Homo sapiens: one gene and its partners. The protein of the gene in region 6 interacts with the protein of the main gene of each other region in a biochemical or structural test. Each region holds a gene or a part of one and is shown on either strand. Other genes may lie near its edges. The genes, in order: ERCC2, YWHAQ, DICER1, PITX2, USP15, TRIM25 and PLAAT4.

The links.
Region 1: the proteins of TRIM25 (region 6) and ERCC2 form a complex in vitro, tested with the Homo sapiens proteins (one study listed by BioGRID).
Region 2: the proteins of TRIM25 (region 6) and YWHAQ form a complex in vitro, tested with the Homo sapiens proteins (one study listed by BioGRID).
Region 3: the proteins of TRIM25 (region 6) and DICER1 form a complex in vitro, tested with the Homo sapiens proteins (one study listed by BioGRID).
Region 4: the proteins of TRIM25 (region 6) and PITX2 form a complex in vitro, tested with the Homo sapiens proteins (one study listed by BioGRID).
Region 5: of the proteins of TRIM25 (region 6) and USP15, one has a biochemical effect on the other in vitro, tested with the Homo sapiens proteins (one study listed by BioGRID).
Region 7: the proteins of TRIM25 (region 6) and PLAAT4 form a complex in vitro, tested with the Homo sapiens proteins (one study listed by BioGRID).

Annotation. Positions count from the first base shown.
Region 1 is NC_000019.10:45,364,074-45,368,262, forward strand, and holds part of ERCC2 (general transcription and DNA repair factor IIH helicase subunit XPD), read right to left. Parts: intron 1,086-4,189; coding exon 969-1,085; intron 882-968; coding exon 765-881; intron 475-764; coding exon 351-474; intron 259-350; coding exon 162-258; intron 47-161; coding exon 1-46. UniProt on the Homo sapiens protein: ATP-dependent 5'-3' DNA helicase. Component of the general transcription and DNA repair factor IIH (TFIIH) core complex, not absolutely essential for minimal transcription in vitro.
Region 2 is NC_000002.12:9,585,593-9,589,781, reverse strand, and holds part of YWHAQ (14-3-3 protein theta), read left to right. Parts: intron 1-1,453; coding exon 1,454-1,617; intron 1,618-2,272; coding exon 2,273-2,368; intron 2,369-4,189. UniProt on the Homo sapiens protein: Adapter protein implicated in the regulation of a large spectrum of both general and specialized signaling pathways. Binds to a large number of partners, usually by recognition of a phosphoserine or phosphothreonine motif.
Region 3 is NC_000014.9:95,087,940-95,091,529, forward strand, and holds part of DICER1 (endoribonuclease Dicer), read right to left. Parts: intron 3,427-3,590; coding exon 3,264-3,426; intron 3,171-3,263; coding exon 3,095-3,170; intron 2,725-3,094; coding exon 2,559-2,724; 3' UTR 1-2,558. UniProt on the Homo sapiens protein: Double-stranded RNA (dsRNA) endoribonuclease playing a central role in short dsRNA-mediated post-transcriptional gene silencing.
Region 4 is NC_000004.12:110,616,609-110,620,452, forward strand, and holds the end of PITX2 (pituitary homeobox 2), read right to left. Parts: intron 2,081-3,844; coding exon 1,517-2,080; 3' UTR 815-1,516; downstream 1-814. UniProt on the Homo sapiens protein: May play a role in myoblast differentiation. When unphosphorylated, associates with an ELAVL1-containing complex, which stabilizes cyclin mRNA and ensuring cell proliferation.
Region 5 is NC_000012.12:62,392,718-62,396,906, reverse strand, and holds part of USP15 (ubiquitin carboxyl-terminal hydrolase 15), read right to left. Parts: intron 3,855-4,189; coding exon 3,705-3,854; intron 613-3,704; coding exon 509-612; intron 1-508. UniProt on the Homo sapiens protein: Hydrolase that removes conjugated ubiquitin from target proteins and regulates various pathways such as the TGF-beta receptor signaling, NF-kappa-B and RNF41/NRDP1-PRKN pathways.
Region 6 is NC_000017.11:56,900,143-56,904,331, forward strand, and holds part of TRIM25 (E3 ubiquitin/ISG15 ligase TRIM25), read right to left. Parts: coding exon 4,113-4,189; intron 1,437-4,112; coding exon 1,277-1,436; intron 1-1,276.
Region 7 is NC_000011.10:63,539,563-63,543,751, reverse strand, and holds part of PLAAT4 (phospholipase A and acyltransferase 4), read right to left. Parts: coding exon 4,128-4,189; intron 1-4,127. UniProt on the Homo sapiens protein: Exhibits both phospholipase A1/2 and acyltransferase activities. Shows phospholipase A1 (PLA1) and A2 (PLA2), catalyzing the calcium-independent release of fatty acids from the sn-1 or sn-2 position of glycerophospholipids.

The DNA of each region.
Region 1 (4,189 bases), on a different chromosome or scaffold from region 6:
ACGCCGGTACTCGTCCCGCAGGCGCTGCTCGTCTGTCTCTTTGATCCTGCGGAGAGATGAGCTGGGGCTGGGAGGGGGCTGGCAACCCTGGGGACAAGTCAGACAGGGGCCAGGGTCCCAGGGGCAGGGCGGGCACCACCGCCAGACGTCCCCGGCCCCACCTGAGCACCGTCTTCTGCAGGGTCTCCAGGTTGCCCTGGCACCGGTCAAGGGTCCGGCGGGTGAGGTTGACGCTCATGGAGTCGATGCAGACGTTGTCTGGAGAAGGGGGAGAGAGCCGGCTCAGGCAGGCCTGCAGGGGCCTCACTCAGAGGGGCTGGCATCCCTTTGGCCCCTGGCGCCCCCCTCACCAATGTTGTGGGCCTCGTCGAAGACCACGACGGCCTTGCGGGCCAGTTCCTTGGACACCAGGTCTGCAATCTTGGGGTCCAGGAGGTAGTGGTAGCTATAAACCACCACATTGGCATGCAGGATCTGGGGGGCCGGGGAGCAGGGTTACCAGGGCCCTGCCACCCCAACCCCTACCCCTACCCCTGGCCACACTGGCCCGTCACTCCCACACAGGCCTGCACAGGCAGACACAGGCCAGGCAGAAGTATGAGCAGATGGATAGAGACAGACCAACAGATACGGGCACCCACCAACAGGGAGATGCAGACAGGCAGACTCACAGCAAGCAACAGACAGACATGGGCAGACAGGAGACGGGCGGGCAGCCCACACCCTCACACTCGCCCCTCTGCCCATCCCACCAGCCTCCTCACTGAGTATCGAGCAAGGAAGTATGGGCACCAGCCCTGGCGCCGCCCCAGGGCCTTCAGGTCATCCAGGTTGTAGATGCCAGCGGGGAGGGGCACCTCACGCCCATGGGCATCAAATTCCTGGGACAAGAGTGCCAGGGGTCAGGGAGGCTGCCTGCCCCAGGCTACCTGTCCTGCCTCCCTCCCTCAGCCCTGCCCTCCAGTAACCTCATAGAATCGGCAGTGGGGCAGGCTGGTGTCATGCTGGTACTGCGCCCGCACATAGGAGGCTGTGAGGCTGTGGCATTTCCCATCGACGTCCTTCCCAAAGCGCAGGGGTGTCACCTGGGGGTGTGGGGCATCTTAGCACCCAGACAGGGTGGAAACCCAACCACTCTTCAAACCCTGGTCTCCACACCTCCCAGCTGGCTGGGGTTTTGGACAACTTGAACCTCAGTCTGTTGCATTATTAGTTAAGACGCGTGGGAACTTAATGCAGGGATACAAGAGTAGTAAAATTGGGCTGGGCGCGGTGGCTCACGCCTGTAATCCCAGCACTTTGTGAGGCTGAGGTGGGCAGATCACGAGGTCAGGAGTTCGAGACCAGCCTGGCCAACATGGTGAAACCCTGTCTCCACTAAAAATACATTAGCCAGGCGTGGTGGCACATGCCTGTAATCCCAGTTACTCGGGAGGCTGAGGCAGGAGAATCGCTTGTATCCGGGAGGTGGAGGTTGCAGTGAGCAGAGATCGTGCCATAGCACTCCAGCCTGGGCGACAGAGTGAGACACCATCTCAAAAAAATAAGTAAAAATAAAAATACAAAAATGAGCCAGGTGTGGTGGTGCACACCTGGAATCCCAGCTACTCGGGAGGCTGAGGCAGGAGAATCCCTTGAACCCAGAAGGCAGAGGTTGCAGTGAGCCGAGATCATGCCACTGTACTCCACCCTGGGCCACGGAGCCAGACTCCCTCTCAAAAAAAAAAAGAGTAGCAAAATTGTTACATTCTTACAACTACAAGTTATACATACATATTTTTGGAGACAAGTCCCTCTGCTACTCAGGCTGGAATGCAGTGGCCCAATCACGGCTCACTACATCCTTGACCTCCCAGGCTCAAGTGATCCTTCCCCCACTCAGCCTCCCGAGTAGCTGCGGCCACAGGTGTGCACCACCATGCCCGGCTAATTTTTGTCTTCTTAGTTGAGATGAGGTCTTGCTATGTTGCCCAGGCTGGTCTCAAACTCCTGGTCTCAAGCAATCCTCCCACCTCAGCCTCCCAAAGTGCTGGGATTACAGGCTGAGCCACTGCGCCCAGCCAGCCAAAACTAATATTTTATTTTTTGAGACGGAGTCTTGCTCTGTTGCCCAGGCTGGAGTGCAATGGCACGATCTTGGCTCACCACAACCTCCGCCTCCCAGGTTCAAGCGATTCTCCTGTCTCAGCCTCCCGAGTAGCTGGGATTACAGACATGTGCCACCACACCCGGCTAATTTTGTCTTTTTAGTAGAGACAGGGTTTCTCCATGTTGATCAAGCTGGTCTCGAACTCCTGATCTCAGGTGATCCACCCGCCTCGGCCTCCCAAAGTGCTGGGATTATAGGTGTGAGCCACCGTGCCCAGCCCAAAACTAATATTTTAAAACAATAAGCCTGAAAAATCTTTAGCATATAGGTTGAAGATAACTACTTCATCCTTGGAAATGCCAAAACGCATGGAACCTTGGCAGGGCCTAAGAATCAAAGGAGGTTCCACACAGTCTGGGACTCCCCTTACCCCTGACCTGCTCTGTACCCTCTAAGGCACCATCACAGCCTAAGGCTTTTTCTGAAGAACAAATCCTTTTCCTACGCCAAAAGGAAAGCTCCAAGGCAGCCAGCCCTTCCTTCTCCATTTCCCCTTTCATCAGTCACCGAGGCCTGTGCTCTTTGTCATCCACTAGATGTATTATTTCTCACATATTCTTACAAATAATGTGATATAATATATAGTCTGTGGGCCCAGTGTGGGAGTTTGAGACCAGCCCGGCCAACATGATGAAACCCCATCTCTACTAAAAATACAAAAAACTAGCAGGGCGTGGTGGTGGGTGCCTGTAATCCCAGCTACTCAGGAAGCTGAGGCAGAAGAATCACTTGAACCTCGGAGGTGGAGGTTGTGGTGAACCGAGATCACGCCACTGCACTCCAGCCTGGGCAACAAGAGTGAAACTCCATTTCAAAAATAATAATAATAAATAAGGCTGGGCACGATGGCTCATGCCTGTAATCCCAGCACTTTGGGAGGCTGAGGCGGGAGGATCACAAGGTCGGGAGTTAGAGACCAGCCTAACCAACATGGTGAAACACCGTCTCTACTAAAAACACACAAATTAGCCGGGTGTAGTGGGGCACCTGTAATCCTAGCTACTCAGGAGGCTGAGGCAGGAGAATTGCTTGAACCCGGGAGGCGGAGCTTGTAGTAAGCCAAGATCACTCCCCTGCACTCCAGGCTGGGTGACAGAGTGAGACTCCGTCTCAAAAACAAAACAAAACAAAAATATATATATATATACACACACACACACACACACACACACACACACATATAAAAACATATATACACACACATATATATGTAAGTATAATATATACACATATATACATTCTGTGGGTTACCACATGTAAAGTATTCAGAACAGTGCCTGGCACACAGTGAGTACAATTTTTTTTTTTTTTTGAGACGGAGTTTCACTCTTGTTGCCCAGGCTGGAGTGCAGTGGCGCGATCTCGGCTCACTGCAACCTCCCCCTCGGGAGTTCGAGCAATTCTCCTGTCTCAGCCTCCCAAGTAGCTGGGATTACAGGCATGTGCCCAGCTAATTTTTCAATTTTTTTTCAGTAGAGACGGGGTTTCTCCATATTGGCCAGGCTGGTCTCAAACTCCCGACCTCAGGTGTCCACCCGCCTCGGCCTCCCAAAGTGCTGGGATTATAGTCGTGAGTCACCATGCCCAGCCAAGTACAATGATTTTATAGCATAATTTAATGATAACTAATATTGTATTTGTCATATATCATTATGCATATAAATATCATGACAATTTCTTTTTTTTTTTTTTTAAGACAGAGTCTCACTCTGTCACCCAGGCTGGAATGCAGTGGCATGACCTCAGCTCACTGCAACCTCTGCCTCCTGGGTACAAGCGATTGGCATTACCGACGTGTACACCACCACCCCCGGCTAATTTTTGTATTTTTAGTAGAAATGGGGTTTCGCCGTGTTGGCCAGGATGGTCTCGAACTCCTGACCTCAAATGATCTGCCCACCTCAGACTCCCAAAGTGCTGGGACTACAAGCGTGAACCACTGCACCTGGCCTATCATGAGAATTTCTAACATTCTTTTAGCTCTTTGTACATGCTAAGGGCATCGGCTGCAACATTTCACCCAATTTTATCATCAGCAAC
Region 2 (4,189 bases), on a different chromosome or scaffold from region 6:
ATCAAACTCTGGTCAGAGCAGATTTTGTCCTATTTATTGAAACTTTTATATTGCCTTTCAAATAATACCACTTGATACTAAGAATCAGTATTTCTGCAAATCAGAAAAATAGAGATTTTGGTGTTGATGATCTTTGTAAAGTTTACATTATTTAGGGAAAGGGTATTCCAGTCAAATTATTATTATTATTATTAATTTTGAATGGAGTTTTGCTCTTGTTGCCCAGGTTGAAGTGCAATGGCGCGATCTTGGCTCACCGTAAGCTCCGCCTCCCGGGTTCAAGTGAGGCTTGTGCCTAGCCTCCCAAGTAGCTGGGATTACAGGCATGCATCACCACTCCCATCTAATTTTTGTATTATTAGTAGAGACGGGGTTTCTCCATGTTGGTAAGGCTGGTCTTGTACCTCCAACCTCAGGTGATCTGCCTGCCTCAGCCTCCCAAAGTGTTAGGATTACAGGCGTGAGCCACTGTAAATTATTCCAGTCAAATTATTTTTAATTGCTGCATTTCCAAGTAATAGAATTAAAAGACATAAAATAAGAAAATAGTTTTAGCCTAGGTATGGAAAAAAGTCTGATTTACTATAATATCTCATGTTTTTTTTCCATTAAGCTGTTTATATGTAAGCAACATTCTAAACTGGTTTTTTGTTTTGTTTGTTTGTTTGAGACAAACTGTCACTGAGGTTGGGAGTGCAGCAGCATGATCTTGGCTCACTGCAGCTTCAACCTCCTGGGCTCAAGGGGTCCTCCCACCTCAGCCTCCCAAGTAGCTAGAGCTACAGGCACGCACTACCATGCCTAGCTATTTTTTATTATTATTATTTTTTGTAGAGACAGGGATAAGATCTCCCTGTGTTGCCCAGGCTGGTCTTGAACTCTTCAGGTTCAAGTGATCCCCCTGCCTCACCTTCCCAAAGTGTTGGGATTAGAGGCATGAGCCACTGCACCTGGCCATAAACAAGTTCTTAAATACCCAGTACACAATATTGTTTTTGTTTGTTTGTTTTTGACACAGAGTATCGTTCTGTTGCCCAAGCTGGAGTGCAGTGGTGTGATGTCGGCTCACTGCAACCTCAGCCTCCCAGGTTCAAGCGATTCTCATGCCTCAGCCTCCTGAGTAGCTGGGATTACAGATGCCCGCCATCACGCCTGGCTAATTTTTGTATTTTTAGTAGAGATGGGGTTTCGCCATGTTGGCTAGACTGGTCTTGAACTCCTGATCTCAAGTGATCCACCCACCTCGGCCTCCCAAAGTGCTGGGATTATAGGCGTGAGCCACCGCGCCTGGCCACGATAATGTTTTTTGTTAGCTACCATGATTTTAAAAGACCCATACAGAGAAAAAATCTTGGTTCTACCAAGAGCTAGTAGCATATGTTCAAGTTGTTAATGTACTGTGTACTGGATGGTTATTTTTAATATTGCACTTCTTATTTTTCGCTCTTCACAGAAACGATAGATAATTCCCAAGGAGCTTACCAAGAGGCATTTGATATAAGCAAGAAAGAGATGCAACCCACACACCCAATCCGCCTGGGGCTTGCTCTTAACTTTTCTGTATTTTACTATGAGATTCTTAATAACCCAGAGCTTGCCTGCACGCTGGCTAAAACGGTAAGATGTGTGTCCAGGAAATACGTACTTTAGCTACAGTTATTTGAGATACCAGGTATGTTAATTTATAGGTATTTTACTTGGATACCCAGGGATGATTTCTACTATATTTATTTTGAAATCTCCTCTTTTTCTTCCCATCATGATTACCTACTCCTACCCCTGACACCTTACTCTACCCTATGATTATAAGCAGTGATGTGCCTACAGAGCATACTGAGCAGAGTAATCAAAGAAGGATAAATGATGTTAAGAAGGAAACATAAAAGATTAGAAAGTCATGCCTGCCAGGTTTGGTTACTAGAATAGCTGTGCATCAGCCACATTCCTCAAAGTGGCTCAAAACGAGAGAATAAAGAGGACCCTGTAGAGATAAGTACTACTTAACTGGAAAGAAGTCTGTTAAGCATTGCTGCTGTTCCGTTGTCCTGTGAAAGAACCAAGACATGCTTGTTTACTAAGTGTATAGTTTTATAAAATTCCAGTCATACTCATAAGTTCTTAAACTGGGAGTGTGAGAGAATGGTTCTGTTGAGTTTGTTGATGGTAGAACATAAGGTGGGTGTTCACTTATTTTGTAAAAATGGTTTGTAATTGTAGAATAACCAGTTTTCGTCAATGCACATATTTTACCATGGATATTAATATTTATCAGGCTTTTGATGAGGCCATTGCTGAACTTGATACACTGAATGAAGACTCATACAAAGACAGCACCCTCATCATGCAGTTGCTTAGAGACAACCTAACAGTGAGTTGTTTACTCTTTTAATTTTATTTTCTTTTCAGAAACAAAAGTATTTATATTTTATTTTGGACTTCGTGTCTTTTAGGGAAGATACATACGAGCTGAAAGTATGAGATACGTGTTAGTATTTTATGGGACGAACATTATTTTGTAGGCAGGTTTTCAAGTTGAATAGGCATTTTATCAGACCTTCCTGAGAAGGTTCTAACATGATAGGAACTCAATATTAATATTACTATTTCATTGGGATGAAGATGTTGATAAATTATGTTAATAAAGAGCTTATCAAGTTTCAATATTTTGGGGCAAATCAGCTATAGCCAGTTAGGGACTATCTAAATATCTACGCTTTCTTAAAATCACAGGAAGTACCTTGTTCTAATAAAAGTTTACTTTGTGAATTGTGCATGATGTTCTACAAGCATTTAGGGAGTAAACCTATACCTAAACTTACTCCTTCTCTGCTTCTAGGCAAAAGCTTCTGTTTTGTTTGTCTTTTTCTCCCTGCTTCTTAGATAGGCAATTGATAAAGGAAGTAATCAAGAAAAAGTACAGCTTAAGCTTTACTTTAACATTCTTTTGTAGGTTCAAGTAAATTTGATAGGTAAAATCTTAGACTTCACAGAAGGAAAAAGAAGGGAACAAATCTTTTAATATAGATCTCGTCCTCCCAGCCCCCTAGTTTGGTGCTTTATCATTTACTAGATAGGATTTTTTAAATATTAGCACCATGTCTATTCAATTTTGCTGAATAGGGTAATTATGAATCCACTGAAAGGGGAACGAAGACCCTGCATTTCTAGCCATGAGAAGTGCCTGTGGTTGTGAGGGGACAATGGAAGATGATCAGCAAATAGTTCTACAGAGGAAGAGCAAATTAGGCAGTTATACCTCTTCCCAGATGTATACCTTGGAGCTAACTATCTTTTAATCGGTTTTGTTTTGTTATCTCTATTATGGAGACAGGTCTTTGGGGGATTTTGTTTTGTTTGTTTTTATTTAGTATCTTCATAATAATCTAAGGATTATGTAAGATTCTGGCTTTTCTGAAATTAACACTAATGTCTTGCTGTTGGTCTAATAAAGTGCAATTATAGTCAATAAATACTGACTTCTCTTCTTCACTTCATCTTCCTATCCTAAAATCAGAGAGATCCTGGAAGATCCACTTAGTTTTAACATTCTGTCTAATTCAAGAACCCTGTCTATACATGCACACATTGCTTCCCTGTAGCTTCCATCACCCACTTCTATTTAATTCTTGGAGAAACACAAAGTAAGTCTGCTTTTCCTATAGTTTAGCCCTTCACACACTTGAAAATTGTTAACCATGATTGTGGCTTTTTCCTCCCTGTGAAAATGTTTTGCTTTATTAGTCTGTAATAATAATGCAGTAGTGCTTTCAAGAAGAGCATTGGGCTGCTGGGAATAGAGACTATCACTTTGCTTATTCTGAAAGTAGAGTGCCTTTTTAAAAAAGTTTCTCTTTTTTTTTTTTTTTTTTGAGAAAGGATCTCACCCTGTTGCCTAGGCTGGAGTGCAGTGTCATAATCATGGATCACTCCAGCCTCAACCTCCTGGATTCAAGCAGTCCTCCTGCCTCAGCCTCCTGAGTAGTTAGGACTGTAGGCACACACCACCCCGTACCTGGCCAATTTTGTTTTTGAAATTTTTTGTAGACGTGGGATCTTGCTATGTTGTCCAGGCTGTTGAACTCCTGGCCTCATGCGATCTTCTCATCTTGGCCTCCCTACGTGCTGAGATTACAGGCGTGAGCCACTGTGCCTGGCCAAATGCTTTTTAAATAAAAAGGAAGCTATAAAA
Region 3 (3,590 bases), on a different chromosome or scaffold from region 6:
TGACAGATGCAAAACATTTCAACAAGCTAAACACAGGAAAACTTTACAGCATTAAAAATCAGCAGCACAAAAGCGTTCATAACCATTTCATATGTCTAACTCGTACTTTTTTATTTTTTAACTCAGTAACCAGGGGATCACAGAATGCTTCAAACTGTGAGTCAAATTAAAATCTACTATTTTTCTCCAACAAAAAGTGAAACGGCTGAAGTTTGCTGTTGATAAAACATTTGAATGGTAGAAGGAAATTTGAACCCCTGAGAATGTATGACCTAATCATGTCTAAGTTTGAACATCTTAGTATTAACAAAAAAATACTCTTCTTAAGGTTACAAATATATTGAGGCATTTTTCTCCCACTGGGAATCATAACTGTGAAAACAATCTGATTTTGGTGCCAGGAATCAAGAGAATCCCGTAACACTGGGATCAATGTATTAGACACAATGCAAAGCCCTAAGCTCCTGGCATCAGGTAGTTTATAAATATTAAGAGATTTGTGATTAAACTTGATCACAAATCACCCTCAGAATAAAATTCACATCCAGCCTTGTTAACTGCACACTTTTACAGTTATATAATTCAAGAATTGCTTTGTTTTAACTGGTCATATCTTACATTAAGGTTTTTTAAAAAATCAAATAGACATCTAAGGTTCCAAATCGGAATTAAATATTTTTAAAACAAGTCACCTAATTTGCTCAAAAACTCGTTTAATAATTTAGATCTCAATTTAAGTTTAAGATTGGAGACAACAAAAAACACTGGAGAAGCTTAATACCCCCCTCACTCAGGGTTCCTTAGAAAGCAGAGCTGACAGTTTTCTGTCGGTGCACTCGCACAGAGGCATTTCTCTGTGGGTGGATGATGCAGATAAAGCAGGAAGGACAGTATTCAAATGTCACTTACATATAAATGCAGCATTCCACGAAGCATCAAGTTCAGAATCATGTGCTGGGAAATATGAGACACCTCTGCTCAGCTTTCTTAAACTTCAAGCATAATTAACGGGGCAAATTGCAGCAAACCTCTACTGGTATGTTGATGGGAGTGCAAGACTGACCCACAGCTTTTAAAAAGGTAAATTAAGAGGTATTATAGTTACAGTGCAAAAAAAAAAAAATTAAAATTTCAAGCATAATACATAAACATAGCACCAAACAGGGGAAAAATGCATGCAAAAGAAAAGAAGAACTGAGGTATTTAAGTGAAGAGTGCCTACAAGTCTAATTAAAGAAACTTAGGCAAATGCCTAAAGAAGTTTTTTTTTTTTTCCTTTTCCAAAGATGGAAATAATGAGCTAGTTTATCTAAATTAATGACCTAAATCACAGATGTATCAAAATTACGGCAGTTTATCGCAAACGTTAAACTTTCACGGCATTAACAGCACAGCTTTGGTAGGTGAAATATGCATGCAACATTATGAAAAGTATAGTAAGAAATTTATGTGAGGAGACTAAGGGTAAAGGTGCTGTGTTTTGCTTCTTAAATAAGTAACCAATCAATTATAAAATCTGCAGCATATTTTAGGTGTGATATGTCTAAGGTTTATTTTGTTAGAGCAACAGCCTAGAAGGCAAAATTATTTGCCATAAACATTTCCATCAGTGGGAACTACCTGGCAGGAGGACTTTAGTAAAATGGGGTGTTTAGCCAAAGATCATTTTTATGATAAAAAATATCCGTAGACTACATATTCTGGTTTTTAAAATGTCTTCAGTATACATATGACAGAAATTTTAGTATGATCCTGTAATAAGTTACAACTATACTAGTGAGTTGTAAGTATCACGCTGTCTCAACGTCTAATGCATAATAAAATGAAAGGAATGTAAAACAGTTTGTTCCAAAAAGATCAGAGATTAAAGACTATCCATGAAGGTTTCACTTTTAAGGCAAGAACCCTTTTTTATGCAAGACTATGTGGCATCAGAAAACTAAAATGTGATTCACCAACATGCCAGCCAATGTTCATTAAAAATCTGTCCCTTACTATCAGGTGCAACAGCGACCGGGAACATCACCTTACACAGTATAACGTGGAAAGAAAAGACAACATTGGCGCACTTCTCCTCTCGAAAACCTTATCTTTCTATTCAGCTTATCAACTACTGCAGGACTGGCACTACTGCACACACGGAGAGATGGAGAAGAATCTACATCATCCTAGGGACTGCTGGAGGTTTAAGCTCCATGGCCTTCTAACACTAAGCAAAGCTGACATAAACTCAAAAAAAAAAAAACAAAACCTGTCAATTATTTTGAGCACTTGCTAAATGTCATCATTAAAGCACTCTTGTGATTTAAACAAAGCAGAAGTGAGGAAAGAAGATAAGATTGTGTTTGCGCAAAAAACTAAAACTACAATTAGTTCCAAAATTTTATACATATGTTAAATGTTTTATTCTGTTATCTATCCTGTTATCAACCAAACTTTAAATTCTGCCTTCAATTCATTCCACTCACTAACAACTTTAAGTCTTCCTTTCCGATTTAAATAATTTTCCCCTTAATTTTTTTTGTTTTGTTTCTTGTTTTGAATTTTAAAAAGCGGTTTCAGCTATTGGGAACCTGAGGTTGATTAGCTTTGAGGCTTCGGAGGGCTCTTCTTGCTGCTGCAGATTTGGCAATCCTGTAACTTCGACCAACACCTTTAAATTTCCCCTTTCCTACTACTTCCACAGTGACTCTGACCTTCCCGTCGTAAGTTCTCTCAGCCGGGCTGTAAAAAATCCAAACAGCTTGAATTAGAAGTCAGAAGTATTTATTATCATTGTCAATCAGCATTTAGTGTGCACTCTCAGGCCAGGAGTCCCATGTATAAGCTGACACCACACAAAGGAAACACGCGTTACGACTTACTGCAATTGCATACCCCCGACAGACAGGGCTGCCGTCTAGTCTTTATTACAGCATTATTTCATAAAAACAGAAGGAAAAAAGAGAAGTCAATCAGATTACAAACAGAAATCTGACAACAGCACACCACAGTGTAAATATTTTTCAGAATCATTAGTTTACAATATCTTTGTGAACTTTTCCCCTTTGATGTTTTTAAGTTAATGTTTTTTCCATGTACATTTTTTGCTTACCTAAATTTGGCAGTTTCTGGTTCCATTTCAAGCAATTCTCGCACAGGGGAACGGGGTACATTTGCAGAAAACTTTTCTGCAATCAAAATGAAAGAATAATATGAATAATATCTCTGAAGTTGTTTTTAATTTTGTGGGTTTTTTTCTTTCTAAAGGGAGCCAACAATACCTATTAGTGGCCGCATCATGGGATAGTACACCTGCCAGACTGTCTCCAGTGACATCCCACTATCCATGTAAATGGCACCAGCAAGCGACTCAAAAATATCCCCCATGGCCTTTGGAACTTCAATATCCTCTTCTTTCTCTTCATCCTCCTCAGATCTCCTAAGCTATTACAGAGGGAAAAGTGACTTGTAAGCAAAAAGGCCACTTTTACAGGCAGTCCACAGATGTAGTTTCTTTTCTTGGATATATGACTTTTGTTACTTCTTTAGTAAGGGGGGAAATACCATTTATGGTATGCCTACTATATTGTAATAGTAAAACAAATGTT
Region 4 (3,844 bases), on a different chromosome or scaffold from region 6:
ATCTTGATTTGCTTCATTGTCCTGCAGTTTGCAAACTATAATCCTGTATAATTTCAGGAACAAGCAGGTTTAGAATTAATGGGTCAATATTATTTAAAACAAAACACCGGGAGCATGACCTTTGCCTCAACTACATATTGCTCGACAAGACTCAGGAAACTCCACTCTAACCTCTCAACCCCTGAGTTCTTTGAGAAACTGAAGGGCTGTAGTTATTAGAAATCATCTTTGTTTCTTTTAATGTCTCCAAAGGATTTGGAAATAGTAATGCAATATAACATGAAGGATCTCTCTACTTAAGCCTGAAGATAAACGTGGAAGCCTAAATATTTTGAACTGGAGATGTTTCCCTGTAAATTTATTATAGATGTATTCCTCCTGAGAGAAATGCATATAAACTATACATGTATACATGCACAAATATTTCTCCAGAACAATTTGCTAGAGGTGTAGGTTTCCCCGTAAAGGAGTAAACTTGAGAGTCATTTTAAGCTGATGGACTTGCTAAATTTCTTTCTTCTTTTTTCTTTTTCATATTATTTGCTAGCCATAATGGAATCCTCTAGGTTTAAGCCAAAGAAAAATTGGAGAGACAAAATTAGATTTTGTAGCCCTTTTCCCCCCCGGGAATGCCTTTTTTTTTCTTTTTAGTTTCTGATGAATGGCTATCATTTATTTCTACCAAATTTAAATAAGGACTGCTGCCTTGTATGTTTAACTAGGCAGGCAGAGGGAACTGGTTTGTTTAGGAAGCAGTGACTGAGATGTCCTGGCCAAGTTAGTGACAGAGGAGGGGAGAAAGAATCCAGACCAATTTGTATGCAGTATATTTTACTCCCATGAAATAAAACACATTTGTTTCATATTTGCTGAAAAGTAAAACAATAATATTGTACGAAATGTTATACACAGGGTAGGTTGTACATAGCAGTTTCAGAAACATCATTGCATCCACCAGAGAAACTATTCTAAAACTGATATTCACACATTTTTTATAATAATAATAATATGTTAGAAACATACAGTGTGGCATTTAGTATATACACTCCCTTGCTCGCAAGCGAAAAATCCTAATCGCTTCTGTATAACATGCTTTATTTTAAAGCCTAACCTTTAAAAACACTGTTGTGATATTACTAACAACTGCTTTTATAAAATTAATTTGACATTTCGATATATATACATCCTTTCAGTCATTTAAATGTTAACAATGCTAAACTTAAAAAATAACAAGCTTATAGTAATGTTAAAATGTCATATCCAGTCAAACATTTGTTTGTGTATGTGTCCTTGCAACTGTTAGAAATACTTGTAGTGAAAGATGTCAGACACTGAGGACATCCCTTTGAAATCAAAGGAGCTCTCTCTTTGATTCAGTGGTTTCCTTTTCTCTATATAGCTTCTCTTTCTCTCCCTTTCTTTAGTGCCCACGACCTTCTAGCATAATTCCCAGTCTTTCAAGGGCGGAGTTGCCCCATCCGGCAAGGTCCTAGGATCCCGGCGCTGTGGGTGCGGCTCACACGGGCCGGTCCACTGCATACTGGCAAGCACTCAGGTTGGAGGCCGGGTTCTGCACGCTGGCGTAGCCGAAGCTGGAGTGCTGCTTTGCTTTCAGTCTCAGGCTGGCCAGGCTCGAGTTACACGTGTCCCTATAAACATACGGAGGAGTCGGCGGCGCGTAAGGACAGGCAGGCGTCGGCACCGCGGAATTCAGCGACGGGCTACTCAGGTTGTTCAAGTTATTCAGGCTGTTGAGACTGGAGCCCGGGACGCCTGTCACTGCTGAGGGCACCATGCTGGACGACATGCTCATGGACGAGATAGAGTTGGGTGGGGAAAACATGCTCTGTGATGACAGGGGGTTGACGTTCATAGAGTTGAAGAAGGGGAAGCTCTTGGTGGATAGGGAGGCGGATGTAAGGCCCTTGGCGGCCCAGTTGTTGTAGGAATAGCCTGGGTACATGTCGTCGTAGGGCTGCATGAGCCCATTGAACTGCGGCCCGAAGCCATTCTTGCATAGCTCGGCCTGCTGGTTGCGCTCCCTCTTTCTCCATTTGGCCCGACGATTCTTGAACCAAACCTGGGGGCGGTTGGGGCAAGGGAGCAAACAGATGCCACAGTGCAGATTACTAAAACTTCCATCGGAGGCCAACCCCCGCCTTCCCCCGACACACACGCTAGCGCACTCACACACCCTGGCCTCGCTTCACTGCACCGCCCTGCACACCAAGATACCAGGGCCAGCTTTCAGTTACTGGCCCGGGTCTCCACCAAGCGCAGGAGACCTGGTCTGCTCTGGCCTGCGAGCTGGGACTCGGAGCTACGCCACAAACCTCAGCCGAACGCATGGAGACCTGCGGACGGTTTGATCACTCAGCCAGGCGTTTCTCCAGGTCCAAAAACACTTAATGTAAAACAAACGCGGGGCAGCAGGCTTTTCCAACCCTTCCCGGGGCACCTTGCAAACTTGCTTCCATTCCAAAGCCACAGACCCACGGATGAGGAGAAGGGGCTGGAAGGGCACTAGAGGATCGCTCTTTCTCCCACGCAATTCCTCCCTTCCTTCCCTGACCTCCACTGTCGTCCCCCACCCCCTGGTACGTGCTCCCTTAACAGGGACTAGGCCGCCAACACTCTTTCTCGCCTAGCAAAACAACCAAATAAAGAGCAAAAGACCACCTCTTCGTCAGCTCGTTAACTCCAGGAGCTTGGCATATTAAACTCCGGGAACCCGGAAAGGGTAGTTTTGGAGATTCCCCCTTCTTTCGCTCTGCCTCTTCTTTACCCTAAGCCCACCACAGGCCTGTCCGCGCGCCAGGCCCAGCCGGGTCGTTTGGCTTTGCAGGCGGCCACCCAGGCCGGCCGGCTTCCACCCGTGTCCGGTGGCCCAGCCGCAACCCCGATCCCAATCCACATCGGGCCTCCCTGTCGCCCCAGACGGCGGCTTTTGTGTATTGGAGAGAGGCCTGGCCTGAGATATCCGAGCTGACACCAGTGATGTTTCACATTACACATCTCCGCCGGGCCCAGCCGTGTAATCCGCTTTTTCTCTTTTTCCTTTCATTCTTGATTTCCTTTTTATCCCCCTTCCTCTTTGCACCCGACTGCTATAAAAAGCACGCCTCACTCCCACTTGGCTCGACAAGCAGCCGCCCTGGAAGGAGAGGCAGCTGCAAGGAGAGCCCAGCGCCGCGGCTACAAAGCACTAGGGTGGAGCTGCGGAATAGCGGGCGGGGTGGGAGGGCGTTTTCGAAGGATCCCAGAAAACCCATAGACTCTGTCTTTAATTACTTGCCATTTCTACCCTAGGCCATCTAAACTTTGCTCAGGCGAGAAGAGTACGTGAGAGGCCCGTTCCCTTGATGTGCAAGAGAGCTAATGAAAGACTGACCTTGCTCAAAACCACGCCGCCCAGGACCCAGCTCTGGCTCTGGACAGTTAAACTAAAACCATTTTCAACTTCTTCCCGGCCTTTTATCCACCAGCATAGCCTCATGCCTTGCACAAATGCCACCCAGAGAGTGTCTTCATTCCCTCTGATTTGGGAGAGCATTTTGGTCTTTATTCTTTTTATCGTTGTTTTCTTCTTTTTGTTTGCTCTGCTCTAACCGGGGGCTTTATTTTTTCTACCCAGAGCACTTAATTTTTTTTTTTTAACAGCAAAGCCTCTGGATGCCGCTTGATTTGCTTGATTCTGTTTTCTGCTTCCAGAATCCTAACAAATTTGGAATCTTCCACCGACCAGCATAAACCAGGACGTTGCTATTGGGTTATTTATTTGAGCTCATTTTTGCCAATCCATAAAGTACAGATTTGCTACAAAGTTAAGGTAAGCCCTTTTTAC
Region 5 (4,189 bases), on a different chromosome or scaffold from region 6:
GTGGTAGGAAGTGAAAGGGAATTTAGATGTCTATCATGAGGTAAGTGGAGAGATAAAATATGGCAGATGTAAATCATAAGCAGTGAGAAACAACTGACTAAATGGACACAAAGCAACACAGATAAGTCTTCATAAGTGTCGAGACCTAGTGATATCTACAGCACAGTACCAATTATATAAATGAATAAATATTAATGATTTACAAGAGTATATGCATCAAACATGTTAGAAAGCAAAGGGGAAGGAGAACGTGGAGGGAAATGCACTCTAAATGGGACAACATTCCCTACTAGGCCTTGAACTGAGGAGTATGATGAACTCAATTCTCTATACCCTATGTGAAAAAAAAAAGGTTCAAAAGCTGACTCATTCATTAATCAATACTGAACTACTATATGCAAGACACATCTGATATTTTATCCTTAAGAAGTAATAAATATCTTAAAGAAAAAAGTCTGGAGTTCTTCAAACACCATGATTTGGGTAAAAAGGCAAACTGTCAACTTACAGTGTCCTCCTCCCATCCCTCCATAGTGGTTGGAAACAGCAATCAGATTATAGCGGCAAGGACCTGCATTTGGATTAATTAAGAATTCCGACATATCCAAGTCACTGTTTAAAAAAGAAACCAAGTTAATTTTTATGTTGTCCCTAAATGCAATGAATTCTATTCCCTTCTGCCATTGTTGTTTGACATACATATATATATCTATATCTATCCATCTATATATATCTATCTATATATATATATATCTCACTAAGGAAATTATCATGAGTCAAATAACTTACAAAACAAATCATACATGTACCTCTGAGATATTAATGTTTTGGCAAACATTTGTTTATGGGTTGAAAATTTTAAAATGCTTCATTGAGTATACTGAAGAGATATCTGCACTCCCCATGTTTGTCGCAGCAATGGTCACAACAGCTAACATTTGGAAACAACCAAATCTTGTTGATTTGACGAAACTATGTGTTGCAATGTTGATGGAACTAAGTGTCTATCAACAGATAAATGGCTAAAGAAAATCTGGTACATATACACAATGAAGTACTATTCAGCTATAAAAAGGAATGAGATCCTGCCATTTCCAACAACATGGATGGAACTGGAGATTATGTTAAATCAAATAAGCCAGGCACAGAAAGACAAACATCCCATGTTCTCATTTGTGGGATCTAAAAATAAAAAAAAATTGAGCTCATAGACAGACAGAGTAGAAGGATGATTACTAGAGGATGACAAGTGTGGTGGGAAGGTAGGGGAGATGTAAGGTGGGGATGGTTAACGGGTTAAAAAAAAAAACGAATGAATAAAACATACTATTTGATCACACAACAGGGTGACTATAGTCAATAATAACTTAATTATACATTTAAAAATAACTAAGAGTGTGACTGGATTATAACACAAACGATAAACGCTTGAGAGGATGGATACCCCATTCTCCATAATGTGACTATTTCACACTCCATCAAAACATCTCATGTACCCCACAAATATATACACCTACTATGTACCCACAAAAATAAAAAAATAAAATAAAATAAAAATGTGGAATGTTGTCATTCAGATAAACGTTTTCATGCTAACACATTTAACTCTCAGTATACCAGGAAAAACAGTCATCACTATTGACCATCTGGGTCCAGTAGATCTTTATTTTACAGTCAATTTTAGAAAGTAATTTATGGGCAGGGTCAGAGATTAAAAAAGAGGAAGTGATTTATATGAAGAAAAATACAGGAATAGTGAAAACTTCCTTAGAAGTTTTAAAAAATATTAATATATCAAACCTTAATTTTTATTCTACATTTGCTGTCTTTGATGACCTATATACCCGAAATGGGCAACATCCTTTGAATGTAACTGACTAATCAAAATCTATCATTCAAGAACCTGGAAAACGACTTCTTGTAAATAGCTTATTATTATTTCTGGTTGTTCTTCTTGTATTTGCATCATTAAAAAGCAATAATGATTCTAAATTTTAAATACATCTCTGATAGATTCTAGTTTGTCATTACTTCTGATTCTTTTTTTTTTTTTTTGAGAGGGAGTCTCGCTCTGTCGCCAGGCAGCCTGGAGTGCAGTGGCGCGATCTCAGCTCACTGAAATCTCCGCCTCCTGGGTTCAAGCGATTCCCCTGCCTTAGCCTCCCGAGTAGCTGGGACTACAGGCGCGCACAACCATGCCCGGCTAATGTTTTTGAATTTTGGTAGAGATGGGGTTTCACCACGTTGGCTAGGATAGTCTTGCTCTCCTGACCTTGTGATCCACCCACCTCGGCCTCCCAAAGTGCTGGGATTACAGGCGTGAGCCACTGTGCCCAGCCCTGATTCTTTTTCTTATACTTACATTGCCAAATGCTATATTCTTGAAAACTTATGGCTCACTATTTTGTTAAAGAGAAAATGATCTTTTTTTCACTCAATAATTACAAATAATTTTAAATTTTAAATTTATAGCCACCAATTAGAATGAGTAATCCAGTGAATATTTTGTTTTATGTAATCTATTTCCTTCTAGTTACCTTTATAGATACACCTGCCTTTAGCAATTGTCTACTTACTAACTGTATCAAGTACATTTTGGTGTACAAATATCACAGGATATGAAATAATACCGCTGAAAGTTCTTTTTGCAAAATGGGATAGTACCAAGTACTTGTACAAAATATTGTGTGATGAAGTCCTTCTGCTGAATAACTAAGTGACGGGGAATACAATGTTCCCTTTTTGTCATTCTGAATTCTCAACTGTTAAAAGCAGGGGAAGAAAAAAAGAGAGATAAAGTGTGAAGATGTATACAGACTTCTTTGTATCTTTTTACAGACAAGATCAGGGTACGTTCAAGGTGGTATGGCCATAGATATATCTTTTTACAAATATGATGTCATATAATGGCAATAGGAAAACTGAAGGATAATGCAATAGGGATGATTTATTTCACTACTGTGTTATCCTTCTAAGCAATTCCATTGTTGTTTTATTTTAGTCTTTTTGAAAACAGCATATTTAGGGCTGGGCACAGTGGCTCATGCCTGTAATCCCAGCACTTTGGGAGGCCAAGGCGGGTGGATCACTTGAGGTCAGGAGTTCGAGACCAGCCTGGTCAATATGGTGAAACCTCGTCTGTACTAAAAATTAGCCGGGCATGATGGCGGGTGGCTATAATCCCAGTTACTTGGAAGGCTGAGGCAGGAGAATCACCTGAATCCAGGAGGTGGAGGTTGCAGTGAGCCGAGATTGCACCATTGCACTCCAGCCTGGGCAACAGAGTGAGACCCTGTCTCAAAAAACAAACAAAAGAAACACCAAAAAACCCCAACATATTTAGGAGTAAGTGATGAGTAATGATGAAGTAATTCCTAGGATAAACAAAATCACTAAGTACCATAAAGTATCTTAGATTTATAAATGAGACCAATTAACCCATAGGTAATATAACACAGAAGGATTTTTATTGTTTTTATTTTTTTAAAGTATATTTTCTCTTTGATCTTTGGAAAATCTCTAAGAAAAAATAAAAATTTTGAAACACTGATCCTTATAAACTGTTAGAACTACTCAAAAACAAACTTGAAAGCTGAAATTGGGTCCAATGGCACCTGATGTTTACTAAAGGATAATAACAAAAAGCATCAAATAAGTTTGAAAGAAGAGTTGCCCAATGCTTATAAAGTACAATTAAAGCTTACTTGATAGGAAAATCAACTAAGGTATCCAACTTGTCTCTCATGTATCGACTGTAAGAAAATCGCTTGAGATGTACTACAAGTACTGGAGGCAGGGACCATAAATCCAATTTCTTTGTGGCTTGCTGATGTTCTTTACAATTCGGACAATACCTAAGAATAAACAGAAGTATTTAACACTTGATAGAGGTACAAACAACCCCCATTAATGAAAATAATAAACAAAAATGTTTGGAAAGTTCTACATTTATTCAGTGGGCAATTATAGTATGCCTAATATGTACCAGGTTGAAAGCAACTCTTATTATTTTTATTTTCAAGACATTTTCCAAATAGGTTAAACCATTACAAATTAATATACAAATAAATACTTAAAGACATAATGAGGGCTAGATTATTTCTCTTTTAGTATGCAAAAAAGACATAGGTCACAAATCTGTGCTGGAAGACAGGTATTAGAAAATCTCAAATCTGGGCTCTAATGGAAT
Region 6 (4,189 bases):
GGCAGAGGTTGCAGTGAGCAGAGATTGGGCCATTGCACTCCAGCCTGGGTGACAGAGCGAGACTCCGTCTCAAAAAAAAAAAAATTTTTTTTTAATTAGCCGGGCATGATGGTGTGTATCTATAGTCCTAGCTAGTCGGGAGGCTGAGGCAGAGGGATCACTTAATCCCAGGAGTTTGAGGTTACAGTGAACTATAATCACGCCATTGCATTCCGGCCTGGGCGACAGAGCAAGATCCTGAATAAATAAATAAATAAGCCGCAGCCCCTGACCTCACAGAGATCACAACCTAATGAGGGAGATATACGGGGATCCCAAGGAAGAATGCGATACTACCCATGCAAGAGTCCCAAGAGGATGACAAGGACCCTGGGCCCAGTCTGAGGAGTGGGAGCAGTGGCAGGGGAGGCTGGCTATAAATGTAATGTTTTGCTGATCTTTGAAGGGTGAGAGGAGTTAATTAGTGAAGACGGTGGAGTTCAAGCCTTCTGGAGAGTGGGGAAGAGCAAACACAAAGGCCCTGTAGCAGGAAGTTTTGCATATTTGAGGAACTGAATGCAGAGAGATGCACCAGAGGAGAGTGGGGGGCGCCTTGGGGCTGGAGAGAGACCAACAGGGCTTGACCTGGCATCTAGACCAGGGTCAAGGGTTTGGTCTGCATCAGGGAGTAATAGGAAGCCTAGTGAGAGGGCAAAGCAGAATAGGTCCCAGGACATGAGCTCTGCATCATGAAAATCCCTCTCTGGCTGCAGCGGCAGATGCAGAGGGTTTAGGAAGCTGCTACAGTCATGGGGCGACAGGTGATGGCAATGGAGAACAGGCAAGCAGTGCTAGGATCAGCAGACTGAGTCAGGAGATTGAAAGAAGTGAAATTTGGCAATGGATTGGATATGGGGTGATGAAAAGGGGGTGTCAAAGAGGAATTCTAGATTTCTCCCCCAAACGGGCCATTCCCCCACCAAACACAATAACAAGCCCTAGCTTATTCAAAACCCATCCAAGTTGGCCTCAAGATCACAGGCCAAAAGAGCCTATCTGTCCAGAAAGTCCAAGCATTAACATCAAGTCCCCAAAAATGCTTTAGGAAAGATCCTAAAATGTCAGGATGAAGCAGACTCCCCACCAGCCTCCAGACAGAGGGCGGATGTTTCAGGAGCCCTGAAACTCAGGCCCCAGTGCTCGGGATCACGCCCCAATCTCCCATCCCAAAACATTTAGGGGACCCATCGGGTTGCAGGGTTCCACAGGGGGCAGCATAGGGGGCTGCTAAGGTCACCTGAACTGGGGGTGGGCTCCTGGAGCCGCCCGATGCACTGCTTCAGCTCGTTTTTGAGGTCTATGGTGCTCTGGTGGATGCCTTTTATCAGCTTGTGGTTCAGTTCCACCTCGGGGATGTAGACTGGCTTTGTTGAGATTCCTCGCAGTTTTGATGCTTTCTGGAACATGCCAGGGGGTTAGTGCAGGCAGCTCTGGTGAAACGGGGACCTGGGCTCAGTCCTCACCAACCCCAGGAGGCTCTCCCCTATGCCCAAGAGTGCTAAGTCCAATTGGCCTTCTCAAATTACAGGCCAGAGGTCACCAGGAGTTTAAATGACACTTGAAGACACAGTAATCTGGAGCTGGAGGGGACCCCAGAGGTCACTCATCTTACAGATGGGGAAACTGAGGTCTAGACATGGCAGGAACTCCACCAGCTAGGGGCACAGACACAGCTGGGACTGAGATCTTCCGATCCCCCAGGACAATGTTCTTTCCACTTTTCCAGCTAAAGGTGGAAAAGCACAGGAAACTCAGGACCACCCCAATCCTAGGGGAACAGCTCTAATCACACATTCTGGTAACAGACAGGGACATCTCAAGGGATGTGGATTGCAGCCAGGGAATATCTTATGGGAAGGGAGGGTCTTCCTGGAAGTCCCAAACTTTGAGAAAAATAGGGTTGTACAGTATCAAGAAGCCTAGATGTGCACTCAGATCCTTCGAGAGCTCGGGGCAGCTGCTCCAACAGACAGGAATGAACACTTGGGATGAAACTTAACGCCATCCAGACTAGGCACGCATCAGGCCTCAGTGCACAGAGACAAGGTTCCCATTCACTCCTGCACTGTCTCCCCACCCCCTGATCTGAACAAGGAATCTGGGTCTTTCAGGTATAGCTGCAGGTCACTCAATCAATGGGGCACACCACTATATGCCAAGCACTCTGCTATGTGCTGGTCAGATTGGCAGGAGGATGAATGGGGGTAATAAGAGATGGGCTTACAGTCAAAACAGCCATGAAAAAATGCACATCTGAAACAACATCACCCAATGTTACTGTAGAAACAGTGTGGCATGCTTGGGAACACCGATACGGCATGGCAATGGGATCCAAGGCCCTGGAAGGATACGACTCACTAGGCAAGAATGCCCAGCATGGCATCCCACCCACACCCACTGTGTCTGGGGAACAGTGAGTGCATAGGGCATGAGCCAGGGATGGATGATATGAGATGAGACTGCTGGCACAGGCGGGGCCCAGTCACCTAGGACCCTGCAGGCCATGTTAAGGGACATGAGGCCAGAAACAGCAGGGGGCCCATGCTTTAGACAGATACTTTGATACAGTCTGGATGTTTGTCCCCTCCAAATCTCATGTTGGAATGTGATTCCCAGTGTTGGAGGTGGGGCAGGGTGGGAGGTGTTCGTGTCGTGGGGGTGGATTCCCCATGCACCGCTTGGTGCCCTCCCCATGGTAACAGGTGAGTTCTTGCACAAACTGGTTGTTTAACGGAGGCTGGCACTTCCTCCTCTGTCTCTTGTTCCCTCTCTAACCCTGTGACATGCCTGCTCCCAGCTTCACCTTCTGCCATGAGTAAAAGCTTCCTTCCTCACCAAAGGCCTAACTAAAAGCCAAACAGATGCTGGTGCCATGCTTGTACAACCTGTAGAACTGTGAGCCAAATAAACCTCTTTTCTTTATAAATTACTCAGTCTGGTTGGGCGCAGTGGCTCACACCTGTAATCTCAGCACTTTGGGAGGCCGAGGTGGGTGGATCACCTGAGGTCAGGAGTTCGAGACCAGCCTGGCCAACATGGTGAAATCTCGTCTCTACTAAAAATACAAAATTAGCTGGGCATGGTGGCGTGCGCCTGTAATCCCAGCTACTCAGGAGGCTGAGGCAGGAGGATCACTTGAGCCTGGGGGCAGAGGTTTCAGTGAGCAAGATCACACCACTACACTCCAGCCTGAGCAACAAGAGTGAAACTCCATCTCAAAATAAATACATAAAATAAATAAATAACTCAGTCTTAGGTACTCCTTTATAGCAATGCAAAAGGGACTACTAACACACACTTCCAGGAGCTGCTGGAGGAAGGATGGGAGGAAGAGGTGGAGTGTGAGTGGCAGGCAACGTTCTAAGATGGCCCTCAAGCCCCCGACCCCGACTGATGTACATACCCTATAGTATGCCCTCCCCTTCAGTATCGGCAGGACGGTGAATGAAATAGGATATCACTCCTGTGATTAGGTTATGTCATGTGGCAAAGGGGGTGGAATATTGCTGGTGTAATTAGCATCTCAAATCAATTGATTTTGAGTTCATCAAAGGGCAATTATCTGGGGTGGGCCTGACTTAATCAGGTAAAAGACCTTAAAAGAGGGATTGCATCTTTCTAGAGGAGAAATTCTCATGCTGGCCTTGAAGAAGTCAGCTATCAATCTGAGAGACAGCCAGCAGGAAATTGCGGGGGGCCTCAGTCCTACAACCATAAGGAACTAAATTCTGCCAACAACCACATGAGCCTGGAAGACAACCCTGAGCTCCAAAGGAAACAGCCTGGCCATCCCTCGCAGACTGTAGCCTGGTGAGACCCTATGCAGGCCACCCATAAAGCCATGTCCAGATTCCTGAGCCAGAGAAACTCTGAGAGAATAAATATGTGTTTTTTGAAGCCCCTACATTTGTGGTAAGTTGTTGCCCAGCTCAGAAAACTAATACAGCGTGTGTCTCAGGGATGCTTCCAGTGACCTCTTCCAGTCTCCCGCTCCTTGAGGGCCCTATCATCAACAGCATGACATCAGGCAAAAAAAAAAAAAAAACATTCAACAATGCCTTGTGGCGACCTACCTCCAGAAACTCGAACTCATCCCTCTTGGTCAGGCTCTGTTCAATCTCCTCCTTCAAGGTCTGGATCTCACTCTTCT
Region 7 (4,189 bases), on a different chromosome or scaffold from region 6:
TTATATAGTGACTCCAGGTGTTATCTTATTTTTATTAAAATGGATAGTACCTAATGCACACAATAATTAGGTGTGTTACCTCTTTTGCCCCGTTTCTAATCTCAAGGCTGATGTTTGCATTTAGAACCCTCTTAAGAAAATCCTGTTGGCTGGGCGCAGTGGCTCATGCCTGTAATCCCAGCACTTTGGGAGGCCTAAACAGGTGGACCACTTGAGCTCAGGAGTTCGAGACCAGCCTGGACAACATGGCGAGACCTGTCTCTACAAAAAATACAAAAATTAGCTGCGCGTGGTGGCACACGCCTATCATCTCGTCTCAGCTATTCAGAAGGCTGATGTGGGAGGATCACCTGGCCTGAACTCGGGGAGGTCAAGACTGCAGTGAGCCTGATCCCTTGCATGTGCAGTTCCCAATGGGGTTTGCACTCCTATGAGAATCTAATGCTACTACTGATCTGACAAGAGGCGGAGCTCAGGCAGAATGCTCACTCACCTGCCTCTCAGCTCACCTATTGTGTGGCCCGATTCCTAACAGGCCACACACAGCCCAGGGTTGGGGACCCCTGCTTTAACTGATGCATTGATTTGATAAAGTATTTTACAAGCCTGATAATGTTATAACCCTATTTATTCAGGTCAGATTTATGCCAACTTTGCTGAGAATATGGAGGGTATAGATGAGTGAACATCAACAAACATAACTTCTACCGTGGTTAAGAATTTTACTTAAGAAAAGTATTGAAGTTCAAATCCAGGTAGTATTACATTTGAAATTTTTATAAGGGTTATTAATTTAATAAAATTCATTATCAGGTTTCCCCTATAAGCTTTCTCCTAGGTTAGTTTTCCACAAGCATTGTTTTACATACACTGTAATCAGGATAACACAAGCTTAGTGTTAGATCTTGTAGGAAACCAAGATTAGAAGCATTAGAAATGTGCAGAATTTAAGAAATTATGTTTTGTGGTAATCTGTGGCCAACGATGATAGAACCTAGTGCAATTGTAAAGTGAAATTCAAGGAGAAGGAATGAGGAGTTAGGCAAGCAGCACACTTGAATATTAGTGAAGGAGAGGAGCTGTGAGTCAGGAATCAGAGAGACCTGCTAAAACCAGACAGATATAAACACCAAAGACGGAAGCCAAATAGGTAGCCAAAAATCCAGATATTTGAGAAGCAGGAAATTTACAGCAACCAAAGAAATAGGGCAAGATAGGCAGGTGAACACACATGATACCTCAATTGACAATCTTCCTCCTACCAAGCCAGACACGTTGTAAATGCTGCTTCCCATTGGAGCCCAGAAAAAAGGAAAGTTTAGGCTTTCTGTGTCCTATGTGTGGAAGCAGGGAATTGGATTGAAGACTTTCATAGTTGTAAAATAAAGGCAAATCCTGAGGAACTCACTGATAGAGATGTGAAATGACAGTACGGAAGAAAACAGAATAACTATATAAATATATTAGTCTAGGGCCACTTAATTTAGAGGAAGAAAAAAAATCACCCCATCCACAGAAATAGTTTGATAAACAGGTCACTAAATAATTAGCATTTATAAAGATTCTTAGTTATCAAGGGCTGCATTGTATTTTATATACTCAGTTTTATAAGGCGATACTTTTAAATAAGCATTTTAATGAAAATGGTTAAACTGAAAATAATTTTGGTCCTTAAAAGGAGTCAGGAGCTTTTATATATAAGGTACATATTTTAAAAGAATACCTCCTTTATAACAGGGTTTTACAGACACTACTGTAATTTATAATCATTGTTTTTTACTTTTGGGTTCACCTAGATCGTATGAGTTGGTATGATACTTCCAGAACAAAATTATTCATAATGTGTTTTTTGTAATTTATGATTTTTAAGTAAGCTTGACTTATAAATTGACATTGTAATTTTGTACATAATTGGATATATGTGCTAAAATTTAACATTTAGATTTATTTAATTGTAGAAAATACAAATGTAAAACTTATACATGGAAAGAACTGTATGCAGTTGACTTTACCATGGAAATTGGAGGGAAACAGTTTTAGATCAATTTTCTTTCAAAATTTTCTTTATTGTAAAGTATGCAAAATATATATTCATACCATTTATTAAATCAGAATGTTTATGCAAAAAAAAAAAAAAGACTGCAGTGAGCTGTAATCACATCACTGTACACCAGCCTGGATGGCAGAGTAAGACACTGTCTCAGAGGAAAAAAAAAAAAAAAAAGGAAAGAGAGAAAAATTGTCTTTAAAAAGCCTCTTTACGGCTGAGCGCGGTGGCTCATGCCTGTAATCCCAGCACTTTGGGAGGCCGAGGCTGGTGGATCACGAGGTCAGGAGATCGAGACTATCCTGGCCAACATGGTGAAACCCCATGTCTACTAAAATACAAAAAACTAGCTGGCTGTGGTGGCATGCGCCTGTAGCCTCAGCTATTCGGGAGGCTGATGCAGGGGAATCGCTTGAAACTGGGAGGCGGAGGTTGCAGTGAGCTGAGATTGCACCACTGTACTCCATCCCGGTGACAGAGCAAGACTCTGTCTTAAAAAAAAAAAAAAAGCCTCTTTACACACTGCAAGTTAGGCACAAAAAGGACCATGTGTCTTCATTGCCATGCTTTGTCTTACAAGGTCCCTGAGGATCATCTGGATTAAGTGGGCTTGATTTACTATTTTCCATCAATTCAGACATTTTTACAATCCTGCCTGGGAGATGATGGCTTGGAGAAAACTGATAAGATGCAAATGTCTTGCCCTGATAGTGATGGGAATGGTTTTTGTCCAGTGACAATGTAAATGCTTGGTGAAAAGAGAACATGAGAAGTTATGTAGTGGCACTGCCCTAGAGGATATGAACTTGCCTGCACCTACCTAATTTGGCAGTCTCATTGTCTCATTTCTGCATTTTTGTTGTTGTTTTTTGAGACAATGTCTTCCTCTGTCTCCTAGGCTGGAGTGCAGTGGCACTGTCTCAGGATCTCGGCTCACTGCAACCTCCGTCTCCCAGGTTCAAGCAATTCTCCTGCCTCAGCCTCCTGAGTAGCTGGGATTACAGATGCCTGCCACCACCCCCAGCTAATTTTTGTATTTTTAATAGAGACGGGGTTTCACCATGTTGGCCAGGCTCGTCTTGAACTCCTGACCTCAAGTGATCCGTCCGCCTTGGCCTCCCAAAGTGCTGGGATTATAGGAGTGAGCCACTGTGCCTGGCCTCTGTGTTCGTTTTTTCCCCTTTCATTGGCTATCCATACATACGTTTCCTTCATTCTGCTTTTAACTGGGTATGTCATATTTCTGCTTCTGTTATTAATGAGTTAAATAAAACATTGGTATTGCTTACTGTGTATTTGTATGAGAATTTTAAAAAAATGTATAAACCTGTGAGAATTGCTCCCAGTAAGGAATCTTAAGTATATAATATCAAGACACCTTGTTGTGTGAAAACATATGAGGCAAAGGATCTGGCACGGAGAAACATTGTTCCTTTTGAGAAACTTTCTTCTTTAAGACCTAAGAAACCTGGCTGGTTTAAGTCGTATGAGATTCTGCATGCCAAGGTAACTGACTTTGAGCTGGAGAGATCCCAATGCTGAAGCAGCCCAGCTTCGCTGCGGGAGGCAACGGTCTCTTCTTCCGTTCTGCCAGGACCTATGGAATGCACTGTGTCTACTTCATGGGACATATGTGTGTGCAATCTCATCAAGCATCCTCTAAGAAGAATGTGTCTCCTAACTCAAGTTTCCCTTGCTTAACTGTCTTTCAGTGGCTCTCATTGACTTATTTTTTTATTTTTTGAGATCAAGTTTTGCTCTTGTTGCCCAGGCTAGAGTGCAATGGCACGATCTCGGCTCACTGCAACCTCTGCCTCCGGGGATCAAGTGATTCTCCTGCCTCAGCCTCCTGAGTAGCTGGGATTACAGGTGTGTGCCACCACACCTGGCTAATTTTGTATTTTTAGTAGAGATGGGGTTTCTCCATGTTGGTCAGTCTGGTCTTGAACTCCTGACCTCAGGTAATCTGCCCACCTCGGCCTCTCAAAGTGCTGGGATTACAGGCATGAGCCACCGTGCCCGGCCCTCTCATTATCCTTTTAACAAATATTTTGAAAATTATATATTCATCAGTCCTTACTTGGAGGAGCCAGATGGATCACGTAGCCATCTCCTATATACAGGGCCCAGTGCTCATAGCCA